3 separate regions of the Homo sapiens genome follow, and all the other regions are linked to region 3. Evidence: fine-mapped expression QTL. A gene starts in region 3. Each other region holds a variant in brackets. All regions are shown on one strand. Distances are from middle to middle. Region 1 overlaps SREK1IP1 (SREK1 interacting protein 1). Region 2 overlaps SREK1IP1 (SREK1 interacting protein 1). Region 3 holds the start of SREK1IP1 (SREK1 interacting protein 1).

Region 1 (6,651 bases), 43 kb after region 3:
ATCAAACCACTGGCCTTGATTTCCTATGGGAATTAGAGGTGGGGTACTTGCATTTTTTTACTTGATGGACTTAGTATTTGAAATGTTTATAAAAAACATTTAATACTTTTATGAGTTTTTTAATGGATAAAGATAATTAAGAAAGGGGAAAATTATTACAAAAATTATCCTAACCAGTGAAATTCACCAACAGCTAAAATTTTAACATATATACATGCCATATTAATATATAGAATCATATATTAACCAGATTTTTTTCTTCTCACCTCTCCCCCACAGGAATAAATGAAGAAGAGGAAAAGAAGAAAGAAAAAAGCAAAGAAAAAATCAAATTGAAAAAAAAAAGGAAAAGGTATTTTTTGAACAACATTTTAAAAAACAAAGCAGGCCTATGAGTTTAGGATGGATTATAAAATTTTATTTTTTGTGTATAATAGTTAATTTAATATTTTTTCTTCAACAACTAAGCTTTTCATTGAGCTTAAGTTTAAACTCTTAATATATATTTTGTCTTCATATACATGAAATTGACTAAAATATTTGTATTCTTGTAATATTACCATGGCTAATAAATTAACTTATTAATAGAATTTAATAGAACTTGTCATGCTGTCCAGGTGCGATGGCTCATGCCTATAATCCCAGCACTTTGAGAGGTCAAGGCAGGAGAATGGCTTGAGCCCAGAAGTTTGAGACAGGCTTGGGCAACATAGGGAGACCTCATCTCTGCAAAAAGTAAAAGAAAAATTATCCAAGTGTGGTGGCATGTACCTGTGTTCCCAGCTATGTGGAAGGCTGAGGTGAGAGGATTGCTTGAGCCCAGGAGACATGATCACACCACTGTACTCCAGCCTGGGCAACACAGCAAGACCCTATCTGCCCCCCGCCCACCAAAAAAAAAAAAATATATATATATATATATATATATGTAATTATATGCACATACACACACCTTTGTATTTATATGTATTTAGCCTGACAGTTTCATATATATATATATATATGGTGGCTGATGAGGGTTGTGAAAGACCTGAAGGAATTTTTAGCATCACAACTTCCTTCCAGTCTTCGGCCACCTGTGCATTTTTACTATTAACTCTTTTAAAAACTAACTGGTTAAAGAAGTTATTGAAAGTAGTAAGTGGCCACTTCTCTTGTTAATGCGTGCAGTTTCATTCATACTAGCATAAATTTGCACATACAGGCATTTTTTAAAAGCACTTAACCATAATTATTTCTAGTTTAGACCCAGTTCTCATACAGAATAGGTTGTAGAAACCAGGGGCTGCCACTTTGTAGTTTTTATAGAGCATTTAATACATGTATTTTAATATTTCAGGTATCTTATAAATTGGAAAAGTAGCCCACTTTCAAGCGTTAGGAGTTAACTAATAATCTTTAATATAAAAACAAATAGGAATTTAGAGCTCAGGGTTTTCTGTTAATGTATTATTAAATCATTTATTCTAGCACAGGAAGATGGATTGCTCACAGGAAATGATATCTGATAGTCTTCCAAATTCTAATACAGATAGTTCCCAATTTATGTGGTTTGATATGATCTTTCAACTTTATGATGGTGCAGTAGAAATGTACTTCAAGTACCCATACAACCATTCTATTTTTCACTTTCAGGACAGTATTCAATAAATTACATGAGATATTCAATGCTTTATTATAAAATAGGCTTTGTGTTAGATGATTTTGCCCAACTAGAGGCTAATGTAAGTGTTCTGAGCATATTTAAGGGCAGCCACGTTAAGCTATGATGTTCAGTAGGTTAGCTGTATTTTGTGTATTTTCAGCTTCAGATAGATTTATCAAGGCGTAACTCCATCATAAGTTGAAGTACATCTGTATATTTCTTTTTTTTTTTTTTTTTTGAGACAGAGTCTCGCTCTGTTGCCCAGGCTGGAGTCCAGTGGCACAGTCTCAGCTCACTTCAAGCTCCGCCTCCCGGGTTCACTCCATTCTCCTGCCTCAGCCTCCCCAGTAGCTGGGACTACAGGTGCCCACCACCATGCCCGACTAATTTTTTTGTATTTTTAGTACAGACAGGGTTTCACCGTGTTAGCCAGGATGGTCTCAATCTCCTGACCTTGTGATCCGCCTGCCTCAGCCTCCCAAATATTTTTTATAGTAACAGATTATTTATTTGGGCCTCTTTACCTTGAGCATCACAAACCTGAAATTAAATTAACTTTTCTGTGCACACTTAGCAGAGATAGTGCCCCCTGAAAGTGTTGCTATGCCACAGCCTGAAATTTTGCCTTAAAAAGGAGACTTCAGGCCAGGCACGGTGGCTCACTCCTATAATCCCAGCACTTTGGGAGGCTAAGGTGGGTCGATCACCTGAGGTCTGGAGTTTGAGACCAGCCTGGCCAACACAGTGAAACCCCATCTCTACTAAAAATACAAAAAAAATTAGCTGGTGGATTACAGGTGGGTACCTGTAATCCCAGCTACTTGGGAGGCTGAGGCAGGAGAATTGCTTGAACTCGGGGGAGCGGAGGTTGCAGTGAGCCGAGATCACGCCATTGCACTCCAGCCTGGGCAACAAGAGTGAAACTCTGTCTCAGAAAAAAAAAAAAAAAAAAGAAACAAACAAAAAAAAAAACTTCAGGACCAAAAAGCTAAAGAAAAAAGTGCAGGCAGGGAAGAAGCTTTAGTCAGAATCCAGAGGTCAAGTCAAACAGGGTCTTTAAAAGAGGAAAATAGACAAGATTTGAGAATAACAACTGAAGAGGCAAGGGTGCAGGAGAATACATGAGAAAATAAGCTTTAACAGATGATTGGAAGTCTAAGTAAGTAGACAAACAAGGAGGAAAAAGGAACACAACATTACAAAAATAAGGGAAAACTCGGAGTCACTAAAGGAGGAAGGCAGTCAAGGAATTCACACACTATACAGACACAAAATAGCCTTGGAGCCCTGTAGTCTCCTGAATTTACATTGGCACCTCCTTTATATCCGTCTCAGATTTTCTTAGTTTGAGTTTTAACTCCTAATATTTAGATCACTAAACTAACTCTTTAGATACCTTTGTTTACATTTTAAATTAACTCAGTTTCTGTCTTGTCACTCATATTTTGAGTTTGAGTATAGGTAGAATGTTGCACATCTCTTTAAGTAAGATCTTAAAAGATAGGGTTTTCTGTTTTTTTCTTTTTCTTTTCCTTTTTTTTATGAATATTAGAGGAAGGAATTGAACCAATTTTTTCAATTTAGTATTAGAGTAATATTTTTCAAAAGCACAATGATAACCCATCCTTTTTCATTTATATATAGCATAAAAGCATCCTTTTGTAACTAATGAAAATTATTTTGTAATGCAAGTATTCATCTGTATCACTCTCCGTCTAGAGGGATCAAGTACTTGAAAAATCAGAAGAATTACCAAAAGTGCTTTTATTTTGCTAACTTTCAGCTTTCATTCATTCATATGAACGTACAATTATAGCCCTTTAAAATAGAGAATTGCAACTTTTGAGACACTTTTAAGAAAATATGCGAAGTTATTGTATACACAAGTGAATATAATAAGGCTTGGTGAATGCCCCTTTGTTTGCCTTTTAGGATTTTGAATGATATGACTGCATGAAAAACCAAAAATCACAGAAAAATAATTTCATCCTTATTGACTTTAAAACTCATTACATTAGTATTGAGTGGAATAGATACTAGTTTTGTTGGTTTCTGTGACCAAGCAGCAAAAATTCTAAATTCATCGTTTTAAGGGAATGCAAATATATGAAGCATTTTTTAAGTTTATGTTTATACTCCCTACCTTACTCCAAGAAGAATTTAAGGCAGTTCAAATCCCACTTAAATTTATCTATCAGTCATAAATGCAATTCTCAGTCAGTATGTATTATTATCCATAGGTCTTACTCATCCAGTTCCACTGAAGAGGACACTTCAAAACAAAAGAAACAAAAATATCAGAAGAAAGAAAAGAAAAAAGAAAA[A/C]AAGAGTAAATCAAAAAAAGGGAAACATCACAAAAAGGAAAAAAAGAAGAGAAAAAAGGAAAAGCATTCTTCTACACCTAATAGTTCTGAATTCTCCAGAAAGTAACTGAGACTTTGGCTTAAGCCGTTAAATTTAAAAATTTGTTTTTAAAACGTGTTTGCCCTTCCTTGGAATTTGCTATATATTATGCTTTGCAATAAATCACAGCCTTTTCCATATAGACATTTTTCGTATTTGGGACCATTATCCCTCTGGCAATATATTTTTAATGTGCTGTAACTGTAAAGTATTAAATCAGTCTTGTTACTTGATAGCCATGCCCCAAGTATAGCTATTTGTGTATACTAAACACATCATTTTTGGTATTTGTGTCTCTGTGTGTTTGGCTAGTGTTACTACTTCATAAGTTCATTGTAAAATGGCTTTACTGCCATCAACATGGGTCATCTACCTAGCAGTTAATGAGTATTGCTGGATCAGGTGTCCACCTTCCAATGATGAAGCAAGGTAAGGGGTAATGTTTTGCTCTTGACACAGAGAAATTTAATAGCTTTATGTACTAAAATATAATATCTTTTAAAGATAGTGAAATTCTTCAGTTTTTTAAATCTCTAGGGATTTTTTTTCAATGTTGTAGAAGATGCAGCTGCTTAATGGTCTTGACTAGGACTTTTTAAATGAATGGTGTCTGCAGGTAGATGATCATGAAAATATCTCTAACAAAGTTTTACTCTTCTATGAAATGCAGAATTTCTAGTACCTGCCTCCTTTGTTTTTGTAATAATTAAAATACTTCTTGTATAAAGAGATTAGTTCAGCCTGTTAGTAAGTCTGCAGAGATGATGCTGAGTTGGTTGTGATTTTTAGAATAGACTCCTGGGTTGTTTTACAAATGTGCCATATTGGCATGTCTTACAGTGATACCTCAAACACAGAAATTTTTATTTAGGAAGATAGCTAAATCTTTATTAGAACTGATTTTTATTGTATTCAGTATAAATTTTATGAAGCTTGTTTCTATGAGTACTGTGGAAAATTTTATAAATGTGAGCATATATATTTATTTTGTCTGACATAATTTGTAGTTTTAAAGCAAGTTTCACACTGAACTTAACGTTTTCATAAATGACCAGTTTGGGATGTTTCTCTCTTTTACTTTAGTGGCAAACTCAAGAGTAAAAAGTGTCAAAAAAAGAATTGAGAATTTTATTCTGTACTTTTTAAAATTTAAGAGCCAGGGAGTTGCATCATGAAAGCCTTTGTATAATAATGGAAATTTTATATGGGTAAGCATTTTCAAACACATATTAGTAGATACGTTTTTTAAATTTCTATTTTCACATTGATCAGTGTTACTTTGCTTAATACTTAGGTAGCCCTTATGTCCACTAAAGTAAATGCTTATGTTGTAGAAGCATCGAACATCAACCAATGTCATGGCACAGCACCAAAGATTGCAAATACCTCACTATGGTGCGCTTAGAAATTTTCAAATTGATAACCTATAGATACGGCTGCAGGTGAATTCATGATAGTGAAATCAGCTAAGTATACTTAACCTCACAGGCTAGAAAGGTTTACTGATTCTTGTTTCACCTGGCACCCAATGTGGATACCCTCAGTAAGACTCAGGGAGCCTTATAACTCCTCTTAACATATGCTTACCCATGCTTAAATTCTAGGGAAGCTGTATCCACAGCCCTCTGCATTGCAGCCATGAGAGCTCTCACGCTTTCAACCCTTCCATAACCTAATTTAGTCATTTGGGCCTCTCAAAAGGAAATGCTTTTGTTTAAATAGGTCAGTCAGTTACTGGGAGAAAAAATACAGAGCCAGTAGGTTTTTAGGGATTTGTTTTGCCTTTGCTGCTAGTTTTTTGAAAATATTCTTCGATTATCAAGATTTTAAAAATCGGTTTTTAATATAAAGCTTTTTTAAAAACGAGGCTGGCACAAGTGCAGTGGTGTTTCTTTACTCCCACTGCTTGACTTGACTAGCCTTGAAAAAATAACAGTAAAATAAAATATTAAAAAATAATTAGAAAATGCTACAAAGGCAATGACCTTATTCCATTGAGTAAGATAGTTAAAAATGATAGTAATTGTAGTGAAATAGTTAATTACTTGTAAGTTTTATTACTGTTAATTGTAGAGATTATAAATTGGCTCATTAGGTTTCTGAATGGTGACACAATAATGACTGAGAAGAGCAAAAGTCAGTCCTCGTTAACTAATGTAGTATGCAAATTAAAATATTTTAATGATCAGTAATTTTCCCCCCAGAAATGATGTTGGCATTTCTAAGTAAATTTCCCATAATTTTAGCATAGTTTATGAAATTGAATAAAAATTTATTTTCACTGAAGTAATTTTCTTCTAATATGATATTATTATTGAGATTGGATGCAAATCTCATGAATATGTTTTAGAAGAAAATTAATGAAATTCCCTCCCAGGCAGTATGTACCAGAAGGAAAACTGAATTTAGCAGTAAAACAGTCCTGGTCATTCTAACTACCTGTATGATCTTGAACAAAGTCACTTAGTTTCCCTGGGCCTTGGTGTCTTTCGTCTATAAAATATTGTACCAGATTATCTCTGAAATCACTTCAAGGTTTAATATATATAATTATCAATATTTTAAAATTCAAGCAATATTCACTTTAGAAATTATTATAACAT
Region 2 (6,651 bases), 24 kb after region 3:
GCCAAACTGGTTTTCGTAACAGCTATACCATTTTACATTCCCACTAGAAATATACAAGGGCTCTAATTTCTCTACCTTTTTGCCAACACTCGTATTTTCCCTTTTAAAAAATAGCCATTTATGATCATAAGAAATGTATATTTGGTCATTGTCCCTGGTTCTTGACACAGAGCTTCTAAAACTCTTGGAATTTCCTGAGTGATACGGGTGATAGGAGCATCTTTTATTATTCATAGCATGCCCCTTTCAACCATGCCTGAGTTTATACTAATAAGGCGATTCTTGGGAGGCTCCTAGATAATTTCAGGATGGAGGCCATTTGCCAGAGGAACAATCCATGTGATTAGAAAGTTGGAGCTTTCAGCCCCACTTCCAGACCTCTAGAAAGGGGAGAAGGATGAGGAGCTAGAGATTGAATTTAATCACCAGTGGTCAGTGATTGAATCAATCACGCCTATCTAATGGGGCCTTCATAAAAACCCCTAAACTACAGGGTACAGAGAGCTGCTGGGTTTGTGAACACACAGAAGTGCCACGATTGTGGCACACAGAGAGCACATGGAAGCTCTATGCCCCTTCTTTTCCCTATGCCCCTTCTTTGCCCTACGCATCTCCTCCATTTGGCTGTTCTGAGTTCCGTGCTATATAATAAACAGGTAATAGTAAGTAAACTGTTTTGCTGAGTTCTGTGAGCCTTTCTAGCAAATTTTCGAATTTGAGAATGGGGTTATGGGAACCCCCTGACCTTATAAAGCTGGCTGGTCAGAAGTATGGGTGGCCTAGACTCGCTATAGGCATCAGAAATGGGAATAGTCTTGTGGGTCTGAGCCCTTAACTTGTGCTAACCCTGGGTAGTAACAGAATTGAATTGAATTGTTGAACACCCAGTTAGTGTCCAGAAAGTTGGAGAACTGGCTGTTGGTGTGGAAAAAACCCACACATTTGATGTCAGAAGCGTTGTGAGTAGAAACAATTCAGATCATCCTCATAGGTATGAAGTGGTACCTCATTGTGGTTTTGATTTGCATTTCTTTAATGACTAATGATGTTAAGTATCTTTTCATGTGCTTATTCACCATTTGTATTTCTTCTATAGACAAATGTCTATTCAAGGCCTTTGCTCATTTTTTAACTAGGTTGTGTTTTTGTTGAGTTATAGTTGTTCTTTATGTATTCTGGATATTAAGCTCTACCAGATAGATGATTTGCAAATATATTCTCCCTTTTCACTTTCCTGATAATTTTGCACAAAAGTTTTTAATTCTGACGACCATTTTATCAATTTTTTTCTTTTGTTGCTTGTGCTTTTGGTGTTAGATCTAAGAATCCATTGCCAAATCCAAGGTAATGAACATTTACTCCTATGCTTTCTTCTAAGAGCTTTATGGTTTTATATTTTATTTTATTTGACCCATTTTTAGTTAATTTTTACATATAGTCTGAGGTGAGGGGTCCAACTACATTCTTTCCCATGTGGAAAAGTTGTCTCTGTACCATCTGTTGAAAAGACAATTCTTTCCACACTGGATGGACTTTCACTCTTGCTAAAACTCAGTTCGCTATGTATATGTGGGTTTATTTCTGGACTTTCAATTCTATTCCATTGGTCTGTGTGTCTATTCTTATGCCAGTACCAACTGCTTTGATTGCTATAGATTTATAATAAATTTTAAAATCCAGAAGGGTGAATCCTCCACCTTTTTTTTTCTTCTACATTGTTTGCTGTAAGAACATTTAGATTGCTAGCCATAAGAACTGTAATTTGCAACACAGTTATTACCTAGGCTTCACTAACTTATTCCCCAATAGAAAAAAAAATCAGTAAGAAACTTTATTTGTAGTTTTGCAATTAATTTGTCTTATCACCTTAGGGTCGCTTTGCTTGAAGCAAAGCTAAAATGGATGTGGGGCAGAGACTGCTACCAGTATGGTCATTATTTAAGCATTTTATTTATTTTTAATATTCATTTCAATGAGAGGATGAGAGGTATTTGGGTACAAAGCTAGCTTAAGTACTGTAAAGATTGAGCATCAGGAGTTTTTTTTTTTTTTGAGGCAGTTTTACTCTGCTGCCCAGGCTGGAGTGCAGTGGCACAATCTCAGCTCACTGCAACCTCCACCTCCCAGGTTCAAGCAATTCTTGTGCCTTAACCTCCTGAGTAGCTGGAATTACAGGCATGCACCACCATGCCGTTAATTTTTGTATTTTTAGTAGAGACAGGATTTCGCCATGTTGGCCAAGCTGGTCTTGAACTCTTGGACTCAAGTGATCCACCTGCCTCAGCCTCCCTAAGTGCTGGTATTACAGGCATGAGCCACCATGCCCAGCCTGTATCATCAGGAGTTCTGATCAAAGAGGCAAGCCAAACCAACCTAGAAAGCCCACCATTCTGCTCCAAACATGTAACAATGCAGGAGGAAAAAAGTGTTATGTCAACAGCAACCACAACAACAAAAAAACCCAACTCAAAAGAATGAAAGGGAAATCCCCAGGTGCTAGACAAGAAAATGAGCTCAAAGTCAGAGCAGGGAATCTTACTGAAAACAGTGGATCCACAGGCCTACTGGGTAGGTGTTTAAGAGCTGTGGAGTGACACTTTCAAGCCCTGGGGATGGCAGTATGGCAAGGGTGGAGCCCCTCAAGTAAAGTCAGACTCCTTAAAAAGGCTGTGAAGCAGGGATTAGAAAAAATTTCACTCACTGAAAGAAGCAAGAATGCGTATAGTGTGTTTGAGTTCCCATAAGATAATTAGAAGAAAACAAATAAGAATTGGCAACCTCAGCCTATACCTTGTAAGTATATGTAAGTATGAGGAGTGAATTTACACGGCTTCCTGTGAAGCAGGAACTATTTTTCCCATGCTAAGAAATTAATGTTAAAAATTGTGCTGATATCAAATCAAATTTAAAAAATTAAGTCCAACTACGTGTTGTGATTAATAAAACTACACATAAAACTAAAAACTACACAGAAATTTTCAAAATAAAGGGACAAGGAAAAAACACATATTTGATTGAACATTGCTGATATTCCACTATTTTACCTACAAAAATGGCAATTTCATATTACCCAACGAATAATAAACAAAAGAGCACTAGTGGAACTGTTAGCGGTGGTGGGTATCCTAGTTACCGGTGGCGAATCCGTCCAGGTCTGCAGCAACCTCTATTCTTGCCACCTCAGAAGAAAGAATTCTACTGAGGGTCATGAGACAGAAGAAGAGACTGAGGCAAGTTTCAGAGCAGGAGTAGACATTTATTAAAAAGCTTTAAAGCAGGAACGAAAGAAAGGAAAATATACTTGGAAGAGGCCCAGACAGGCACCTTGAGGTTAAGTGCCCCAATTAACATTGAACCTAGCATTTTACATGCTGGCTTACTTCCAGCGTCTTGCACCCCTTTCCCTTCATTGTTCTCTTATGCATGGTGCCCTACCTGCGCTTGGGAGGTGAGCATGCACAGTGTGTTTACTGGAGTTGTACACATGTTCACCTGAGGCTTTTTCTTCCCTTTTCTGGTGGAATGCCCCCAGAAGGTCATACTCCTTCATTTTTGCCTCTTAATGCACATGCTTGTGTCCACTTGCCCGGTTCC[T/G]GAGATCTTATTGGAAGCTGCTGATTATCAATTTCAGGTATTTTTATCTGTTCAGAAACTGCTTCTCCCTGGCACTGGCTGTGACCAATTATCATTTTAGAGAGACAGTGTGACAGCTGCTGGACCATCACTTGATGGTTGCCTGATGTTCCTTTGTGAGTGGGGGAGCCCTCTCCTGCTCCACTCATGCCTGACTAGCTACCTACTATAACAGAACCATTATAATTTCAGACTTTTGAGGCAAAAGCACTACTGGTGATAAGTGGAAACTCACGAACAATAAACTAAAAAGATAAAGTAATGATCTTCAAAGCATTTACTAATGTCTCAAAATATATAGCAAAATCTGTGTTACAAGGAGAAATTGACAAATCTACCCTAGAGAAAACCTGGTGCATGCCCACAGAGATGTCTACAGCTGCTCATTTCAACATTATTTATAATAGCAATTATTGACAAATCAATACTTGTATAATTTTAAGTACTTCTATCAGAAGTTATTAGACAAAAAAATTAAGATGGAGAAGAGTTGAACAAGCAAACAGATATAGAACCCTTTTCAACAAATAACAATATATGGTTGTGTTGTTTAACAACAGGGATACATTCTGAGAAGTGTGTCATTAGGCAATTTCATCTTTGTGTGGAAATTATAGAGTGTACTTTCACAAACTTGGATGTATAGTCTACTACACACCTAGGCTACATGGTATAGCCTATTGTTGCTAGGCTATGAACCTGTATAGCATGTTACTGTACTGAATAGTGTAGGCAGTTGTAACACAGTAGTAAGTATTTGTGTGTCTAAACATATCTAAACATTGACAAGGAACAGTATTATTATCTTATGGGACCTGTGTTGTCTATGTGGTCCATCATTGACCTAAACACCATTATGCAGTATATGACTGTGTTTTCAAAATACATAACAAATCTTTCCTAAATTTACTACATCCTAGGCCACAAAAGAAGTCTCATCAAATACCAAAGAACTAATATCATACAGATCCCATTCTCTGATAACAGTGTAGTAAATTTAGAGATTGACAATAAACACAAAGCCTGAAAACTCCATATGTTTGGAAGCTAAAAAGAGTGCTTCTGAATGATTCATTTGTTAGGAAATCACAGTGAGGAAAACTTGTTCCAATAATATGGCAGACTAGACTAAGAAACAACTAAGAAACTTGTATAAAATGTGCAATACATATTTTAGATACATTAATATACTAGAAAAAAATAAAGAACTAAGAATATTCAAAGGCCAACAACCAAAGGAAAGGAGAAGTTCCAGGAATTAAGCCTTGAGGATATTTGATGAACCCTAGGCTCTTGAACTTCTATTTTTTATGGGCTGGCAGGATGTGGGGGATAAAAATAAGGCCCAGGGCCCTGCCCAAGCCAAATTGGAACTCTATTTAGAGAGTCTCTGGTATAAACCTAGGACTCCCAAAGGACTTCACCCACAAAATAAGAGACAACTGGAAACAACCCCTAGCATAGATTTGTAGTGAATCATTAGTGGATCGTGAAATGAATTATTTGATCACCATTAGCCTTGGTTGTTTTGAACATTGAATATAGAAATCTTTCAATTAACTTTTGTTTCAGTTTTTGTGTGTTAGGGTGTATTTATCCATGAATGTGTGTATGAGTGCACTTGTTTGCATTATTTTTTACTGTTCTCGGTTGTTAAGAAAACTTGAAAGCTGCTACCCTAAAGAAAACCTAGTACATGTGCACAAAGAGACATGTACAACTGCCCATTTAAACACTTTTTATAATAGCAAACTACTGGAAGCAACCTACGTTTCTATCAATAGTACAGCAAATAAATATAATTTTCATACAGTAGAACATTATCGATTAGATAAAATGAGCAAATTACACCTGTTATGTTAACATAGATAAATCACAAAATATTGGGTGGCAGGAAAAAATTGCAGGTATAGGTATAATTGAGTTTATTTTTTTAAGAATACATATCACAATATGTTGTTTGGGAATGATAGAGACCAACTTCAGTGCAGTTGCTTCAGAGGACAAAAAAAAAAAAATGGAATGAGATTGAGAAAGTGTTCCAAAAGTTGATACAAGCTCTCCAGCTGTGTGTGTGTGTGCGCACAGGCATGCGAGTGAGCTTTTTCCTTAAATGAATTGAAAGTGAGCATGACAAAATGTTAACATTTGGATGATAGGTATTTAGGTATTGGTTATATTATTTTCTTTACTTTTATAGTGTTTGTAATATTTGACTTTCTAAAACATATACATAAGTAGATAACTGTTGTAGTTTTCTTATAGGGTAGAGTCTTTAGGGAAATGATGCAAGAATTAAATGTTTAGGTATTCTTTAGTAAAGCACATTCAGTTATATTAATGCTTGTATATTATTATGCCAACTTTAATTAGATGAAAGGTATATAATTGCATGAGTACATTTGTCAAACTGGGAAAGAAAAGGTATGGGAAAGGAATATAATATAAAATCCCAAGTATGATGGTATTTTTTATTTACTTAGTTTAGTTAAAGATATTACTGTATTTTTAGAAAGGGAAATAGAATAACTCAATACTTTGAAATCCATAAGAAGTGGCCCCCAAAAATGCTTATTGAATAAGGAGTTCTGAGGAAGAAAGGAAAAAGTTCTTTCTGAGTATTGCATTCATGGAAAAGTATAGGGAAAATAACCAAACTACTACCAACTGAATAAAAGTTAAAGCTTTCTACATTATATTATTGAAATTGTAACTTACTGGTTACCGTGAGGCAGCAAAACATACAAAAATACATAATGTATCTATAGTTTTATCACTCACATTTTTTTTGTTTGTTTCACTTAGCTGGTCACCTGACTTTTGAATGCCGCAATTTTCTCCGAGTAGACCCTAAAAGGGACATAGTTTTGGATGTCAGCAGTACAAGTAGTGAAGATAGCGATGAAGAGAATGAAGAACTGAATAAATTGCAGGCATTACAGGAAAAAAGTAAGCAATATTTTTTTCCATTCTTTAGAAATGTTTGTAAATGTTCTGTCATATTATATCATGCTTTCC
Region 3 (6,651 bases):
TTCAAGATATTTAAAAACTAAGTGTGTACAACAGGAAGACAGACCCCTATCATTTGAAAGCAACATTACACTAAGTGAAGAAGCCAGACACAATTTAGAATAAGTGATCATAATATGTGGAAATTTCATCTTCAGGGAATTACCTCTTATGCTTAAAAACTTTCTGTCAAGTACTACATTTCTTTGCCTCATCTTCAGGGGCTAGGGTTACAGCAAAACACAGAACATTTATGGACAACCAGGGACCAAGCACTGGTATCATGTATCAATTACTTCCCAAGCTGATACTAAGTTCTTTGAAGGGAGGAATTTTGTCCCATTTACTCTGAATGTCTCTGTACGCTTTCAGCACCTAATGTACCATTAGATAGTAAAGGCAATAAACATTCGTTGAACAGACTTATTACATGTGCTTCAAATTCTTCACAGACCAAATTTTTGTCCACACTCTTAACCTTACAGAACTTAGAAGCTTTAATATCTTTGATGAGCCTTATGCTGGAAAAAGTCCCAAGCTGTTTTTGGATGAAAACTTGGGCCCTTATGTTATCATTCAGCCTATTTCTGTTCAGAAGATAGTATTTATCACATTTTGTAATTAAACATTTATTTGCATGATTATTCAGTCAATGTATACTTCACTCAACTAACTCATGACAACTGAGTCAATGCTGTGTTTTCTTTCCATTGTCTCCCTAAAACCTAGCATAGAGCCTGGCAATTGATTTGCTCAATCATTATTTGTTGAATGAATAATCTATTCAGGAATGTATCCTTGTTAAAGCTTTTCATCTATATGACCATGTCAAATCTTGCTTTAGAATAAAGCAATTAAGTCTGTCCTTGACCAGCAGTATAACCTCAAACTCACTGATGCTTAATACTTCTCAAAAACTAAGAAAAATATAGTATTAATTCATCCATCCATTCATTTATTCAATACCTATCTGAACTCCTTCTATCATGTATCAAGTACTGTTCCAGATGCTTGTCTCTGCCCTTATGTTCCTTACATTCTATAGGGGGAAGGTAGGAGGAAGGATACAGTAATACTAAATAATTAATAAATACCATGAAAAAAACTAAAAAGGTTAAGGGGGCCAGAGACTGCTGGGATGCAAGGCATGATTGAAGTTTGCTATTTCATAGAAAGTAGATAAGAAAGGGCTCTTTGCTAAGGTCAACACTTGATTAGACAGAGGAACAGCAAGTGTGAAGGCCCTGTCTGGCAGGATGGTAAATCTATTCAATCTCTACCAGTGTTTATTAACTGGGGGTGATATTGCCCTCAAGAAACATTTGGAAATAGGAGGAGGTAGGTATTTTGGGTTTTCACATTGATATTAAATAAGATAGGTGAGGGGTGGGATGGACATACTAATCTACAATGCCCAGGAGAAGTTCAAACAAAGAATTGAAAGAATTGGTCTGCCCATAAAATATCCATTACATTTTTGCTGGGAATTACAGCATTTTTGGTTTCACTTTTAAATTGCTCTCATTACATTATCAAATGTCAATGAATAAAAGACTGTATAAATTATTTATGATGCAATCATGTAACAAACAGGATGGTATGTTGTGTAAATTTAGCTTATCTTAATTCAACTATATACTTCCAATCTCATTTTCTCCAATATGCTGATTCATCAAATTTCATATGTGATATAAGCTAGGTCTCAATTTAAGAATTCAGGTGACACTTATTCCACAACAGACTCTTCTGCCTTGTACAGCATACAAACATCTTGGATGGGAATTGGCATACATTAGCCATCAAATCAATCAGAGAAACCTTTCCCCATTCTAATGTGGTAATAGTCCCCATTTCCCACTTTCTCTGACTGACAGTCATCTCAGGTTTTAAAACCAGCTCAAAAGATATCTTTTCCATGAGGCTTTTCCTAACTTCCCCAGTTGTTCACTACTCAGTACCGCCATAGCAACCTGGTCTCTTCTCCACAAGCACGCTTATCAGACATACAGGCTTTTGTTTACCTGTCTGTCTCACAAACTAAACTATAAGCTTTTCCGGGAAAACAACTACCTTACCCATCCATCTTTGTATCTCCGGCGCCTAGTACAGTGCCCAGTGCCTCGCAGGCGTTCAATTAATGATTGTAGAAGAAATGGAGAATGAATGACCTTAGTTAAGCAAAGAATATATCAAACTCAAAAATGTCTGTTTAAAAACCTAAGACCCCAGAAATCGGCTGCATGAGTTGGGTTAAAGCATTAAATAGGACCGGAATGCTGGTAGGTAGAGAAATCTCCACTTGACTTCTTCAAGTACATCCTGAAAAGTACCAACATCAGTGTTTCGATGCAACATTGTCCACATGCAGGAGTAAAGACAACACTTCTCGTGGTCTCTTCCTACCACGAGATCCTGAAACCCACTCCCCACCCCAAATCCGGGAAATCTCACTTTGGGGATCCCAGGACCCCAAGTTCCCTAGATGAGGCTCTCACCTTCCCATTCGTGGGAGGCTCCTGGATGTAGATGTTGCTCATCTTGGTCAGTACAAAGGACTCTGCTCCTTACGGGGGATGAGAGCGGCCGGCCGGCCACTAAAGCTGTCCGCCTACGAGTACACTCTTCCTTAAGTCCAGTGGTGCAGGAAAGCTTCAGTTTGTCAATATCACGCAAGACAGGGACACCAAACACTACCCCTGCCCAAAGGAGCCCCTCACGGACGCCGCCATGTTGTTACCGGACCCGAGCACCGCTAACCCTGAGAAGGGTTATTCCAATGTACTCCAGGGAACGAGAAAAGTCCGTAAAGTTACCATAGCTTAATGTTATTTATGTTATTTGTATTACAATATTAGAAGGGACACTTCATAAGTGTTGGCGGTGTTTACACTACTCTCGTGTGCAGATCAAACTAACTCCCCCTCCAAAACTATCAGTAATGGTTCGGACCATGTGTCTTCTGCAATATGACTCGTCCGGAAACTGCATCCGCATCTACTGGTTCTGCCGTCGCTAGAGGCGTACAGGCCCTTCCCGACCGTAGCGAGGGTGCTGCTGCGCTGGGGGAAGGAAAACGCCGCTTTGACTGTGCCTTGTTCTCACAGCTGGCGGGAAGCAAGCGCCTTTTCGAAAGCCAGAGGCTCGAGTTACCCCTCTTACCACCGTCATGGCAGTCCCAGGTAAGGAGCAATTACAGGGCCTCTGCGTCCGAGCTCCGAAGGGAGCGCAAGGGAGGGTAGGGTAGGGTGCGGCGTGTACGGAGCAGCGCCCATGGGGATTTAGGCGGAGGCCTTAAAATTCACAGGTTTGTTTTGTTTACATGAAAAAGTTTACACTCCAAACATAAACTCTGAAGGAAAGAAAATAACTATCTTCCCCCCAGGAGCCAAGCCCCAGCTGCTTGGGATTACAGGGAAAGTGTATTGTGGAAGGGAGGGAGGAGGGAGAGACTGTAACTGTAGGCCTAAGGGGGCAAGCGGCCGAGAAAAACTACCTTAACTGTGGTATGGCTTAAAACTAAAACTTGAAGTGGGAACACTTGGCCGACCCAGGTAACCGGAGGCATCGTTTGTCTTAGAAGTCGCTAGGACCCACCGGGTGTGCGGGTTCTACTCCTAGCTCTTCCTGTTGTATGTAGCTGCTCCGTGGCCATAGATTGGTCGCTTTGTGCTTCTGGGCCTCAGTTTCCTTATAAAAAGAAGGAGCTTTGTTGAATTATATATAAGATTTCTTCTAACTCTCAAATTCTATGTCCAGAAGTTACTGACCTAAAAACGGTGAACTCTGCAGAATAATTACTTAAAAGATTTTCTCGTCCTCAACTACCAGCTTACTTGGAAGTTCTAGTAGCGGAAAGCATCTCCTCAAACCAGCTTTGCCACTGCAGAACACTGATTGCAGGAGACATTTTCAGAAATACACACTTCTCCACCCCACCTCCCAACTTGGAAATTCCCAGCGCACTTTAGTAATAGAAAAGATTCTATTCTATTAGAATAGAATACTATGAATTGCTATAGAATTACTATGAACTATAGAATTACTATGGTTCAGAACCCTAACTTTGTTTAAACCTGCACTTCCCAGTATTATTTGACCAGGTTCTTTATTCTGTGGCAGCCTTTTTGAACCTCCTTCTACAGATAGCTGTTATTGGAACACTGTGCTTTTGTACTAACTGAAGTTTGCGGAGGAGTACATCTGGAGCTGTGAGAGAGGAAATGTACACTCTTTATTAAGCCTACTGTGTGCCAGGCACTGGTACTGGGCATTGGAAATACAGTGGTGAGCAAGGTAGACATGGTTACGCTTCACACAGAACTTAGAATTTAGCAGTGAAGAGAGAGAAATTTACAGAAAGTGGGACAAGTGCCATGGCAAGGAAAATACAAGACCTTAGCACAAAGTAAGGGCACCAAACACATACAGGATGGGCAGAAGGACTTTCCAAAGGAGGTAGCACTTAGGAGGAGATCTGAATTGTAGGAGGGGTGGCTTGAAGGGAGAGGAGACTGCAGTCGGAGGAACTGGATACGTAAAGGAAGAGGAAATATGTGAAAAGAGGAAATGAAAGATGTTTTCTATGGATGGAACTCAAATACAGATGGGAGATAAGTGAGAAATTAAGTACAGAGGTAGTAGCTGTAGCTAATATTGACTAATATTTATGTGTCAAATATGTCAGAATGAAAGATGTTTTCTGTGGATAGAACTCAAATACAAATGGGAGGTAAGTGAGAAATTAAGTAGATAGTAACTGTAGCTAATATTGACTAATATTTATAAGTCAAATATGTCAGATACTATATCAAACATTGTATTCTATCTCATTTAATATTCACAACTGCACTGTGAAATGAGTATTAATATTCCCATTTTACAGATGAGGACACTGAGGGACAAAGAAATCAAGTAATTTGCCTATTATGAGACAGCTGGAAAGCAAGAAGTCAGTCTGGTTCCTCTAGACTGTGTACTTCATTCATTTTGCCATCGTATAGGATAACTTACAAGGTAGTTTCCAGCTCTTTAAGGACCTGTAGGCCATGACAAGAGGTTTGGCATTATCCTACAGATGGCAGGAAGCCATTTAAGGATTTTAAAGCAGATTCACATTTTGGAAAGATAATTCTGGCTAGAAAGTAGATTGGAGACAAAGTTTACCAGTTAGGAGTAATTCTGGTGAGTTATAATGATGTGTGGCTGAGATGTGGTCTCAATAGGTAAGGAGAGAAGTGGATAAATTGAAGATACATTTTTGGTGGTAGAGTCACTAGGAGTTGGTGATTGATTCAGTGTGGGTAGGTAAAAGAGGAAATGAGGTTTACCTGGGTTTTACTGTTAAGCAATTGGGTGGGGCTGTTTACTGACATGACAACACCTCACAAGGGGCAGGGGTTAAGGGGATGATGATGACATCCAGTCTGGGGCTTGTTGTGTTGAGGTTAGTCAGACATAGGAATGCAAATAGTTAATAGTAAGAGATATAATTTGTAGCTTAGGAAAGAAGTCAGAGTCAAAGACAATGATTTGGGTGTTACCCACACACATAATAGGAGGTAAGGCTATGGGAGTGGAGCACTCTGCTTAGATGGTGTGTAGAATGTGAAGGGAAGGTCTGTGGCTGAAGCCTGGTCAACATCTAAGAGGCCAGCAGCGAAAGATAAACCTACACAGTAGATTGCCTAGGCATCCTGATAGGCCGAGTCAGCTCTAGTGATCTTTATACCACACAGCTGCACCCAAAGTTGACCTGTTATCACTGCTCATTTCATTACTTGAGCAAGCCTTTTGGGCACCTGTGTGATATGGGCACACTGGAGGACACAGTGTCATAGTCTGTGCCCTCATAAAACTTTAAGCAGTACATGAAAATGTGCTACTTAAGAAAGGGGACAAAAGTGATTTTTTAAGGCCTCATTAAAATTCTCTTAAACTTAGACCAGTGTTATAGATATGTTAACCTTCTTTCAATTCAAAATAGTGCTTCAAAGTATAATAATGTTAAATTGTGCCATTAAGCTAGATGGCAAGCTATAAACTGTTTAAACCCAGCAATAATTGAGATAATAGGTGTGACAGTGCTGTAAAAGTACAATGCAAGTGTCATTAGAAAATACAGATACAGAAAATCGTAAGATAATTTCTTAGATGATCGATCCAGACAGGGTATTAAAGGAAAATAGGGCTAATCTAAACTTTTCAAGGTTATCATCAAGGAGGACAAGTATTATGTTAGGCTCTTTAATTTTAGGTTTAATGGATTCAGTTTGGCATTTCTTGGGGTGGTCCTGCTAGTGATTATGACAAGGTATGATTATAAAGTAACAAGGCTGCTTTCTGCAAACCACACATAAAAATCAGCCTTGTCTGTTTTATGATCATGTGCTTCACCCGTGTTTCCATAGCATTGTGTATAAGCGTATACCATTATGTAGGTAATGCAATGAAATGTAGGCATTTAGGAAAATCTTACTCTTAGTTGTTATTATAGAAATAATATTTGATCACAGGTTTCAGTGAAATTTACTTTCTTTGAAAAAACTGCTTTTCCCATTCACAGTTGTTGAAATTACCTCCAACATTCATGTCAGTGATTCACCACTCTCCATGAAGAGCTGAACTGGCACAAGTGGCAACGTATGTTACTGATGTAATTGGCACAAAACTGTTTT

Evidence for each region. PIP is the estimated chance that this variant, and not a neighbour inherited with it, causes the effect.
Region 1: its variant is fine-mapped to the expression of SREK1IP1 in whole blood (TOPMed, PIP 0.97).
Region 2: its variant is fine-mapped to the expression of SREK1IP1 in whole blood (INTERVAL, PIP above 0.99).

What each region holds. Positions count from the first base shown.
Region 1 is chr5:64,721,808-64,728,458 of GRCh38, reverse strand. SREK1IP1 (SREK1 interacting protein 1) reads left to right here. Exons shown (of 5, transcript NM_173829.4): 4 at 280-352; 5 at 3,886-6,651. The coding sequence ends at 4,075. Among named protein-coding and RNA genes, the nearest start is that of SHISAL2B, 35 kb to the right of the region's middle. The variant A/C (reference allele first, on the strand shown) is at 3,970.
Region 2 is chr5:64,740,988-64,747,638 of GRCh38, reverse strand. SREK1IP1 (SREK1 interacting protein 1) reads left to right here. Exons shown (of 5, transcript NM_173829.4): 3 at 6,439-6,582. Among named protein-coding and RNA genes, the nearest start is that of SREK1IP1, 24 kb to the left of the region's middle. The variant T/G (reference allele first, on the strand shown) is at 3,595.
Region 3 is chr5:64,765,010-64,771,660 of GRCh38, reverse strand. It overlaps SREK1IP1 (SREK1 interacting protein 1), which reads left to right and starts at 2,970. Exons shown (of 5, transcript NM_173829.4): 1 at 2,970-3,156. The coding sequence starts at 3,144. It overlaps CWC27 (CWC27 spliceosome associated cyclophilin), which reads right to left and starts at 2,731. Exons shown (of 14, transcript NM_005869.4): 1 at 2,473-2,731. The coding sequence starts at 2,514. It overlaps LOC124900985 (a long non-coding RNA gene), which reads left to right and starts at 3,165. Exons shown (of 4, transcript XR_007058787.1): 1 at 3,165-4,706; 2 at 6,540-6,651. RefSeq lists enhancers at 2,235-2,959, 2,678-2,997, 3,148-3,237, 2,389-3,588, 2,960-3,686 and silencers at 2,925-3,219, 5,282-5,421.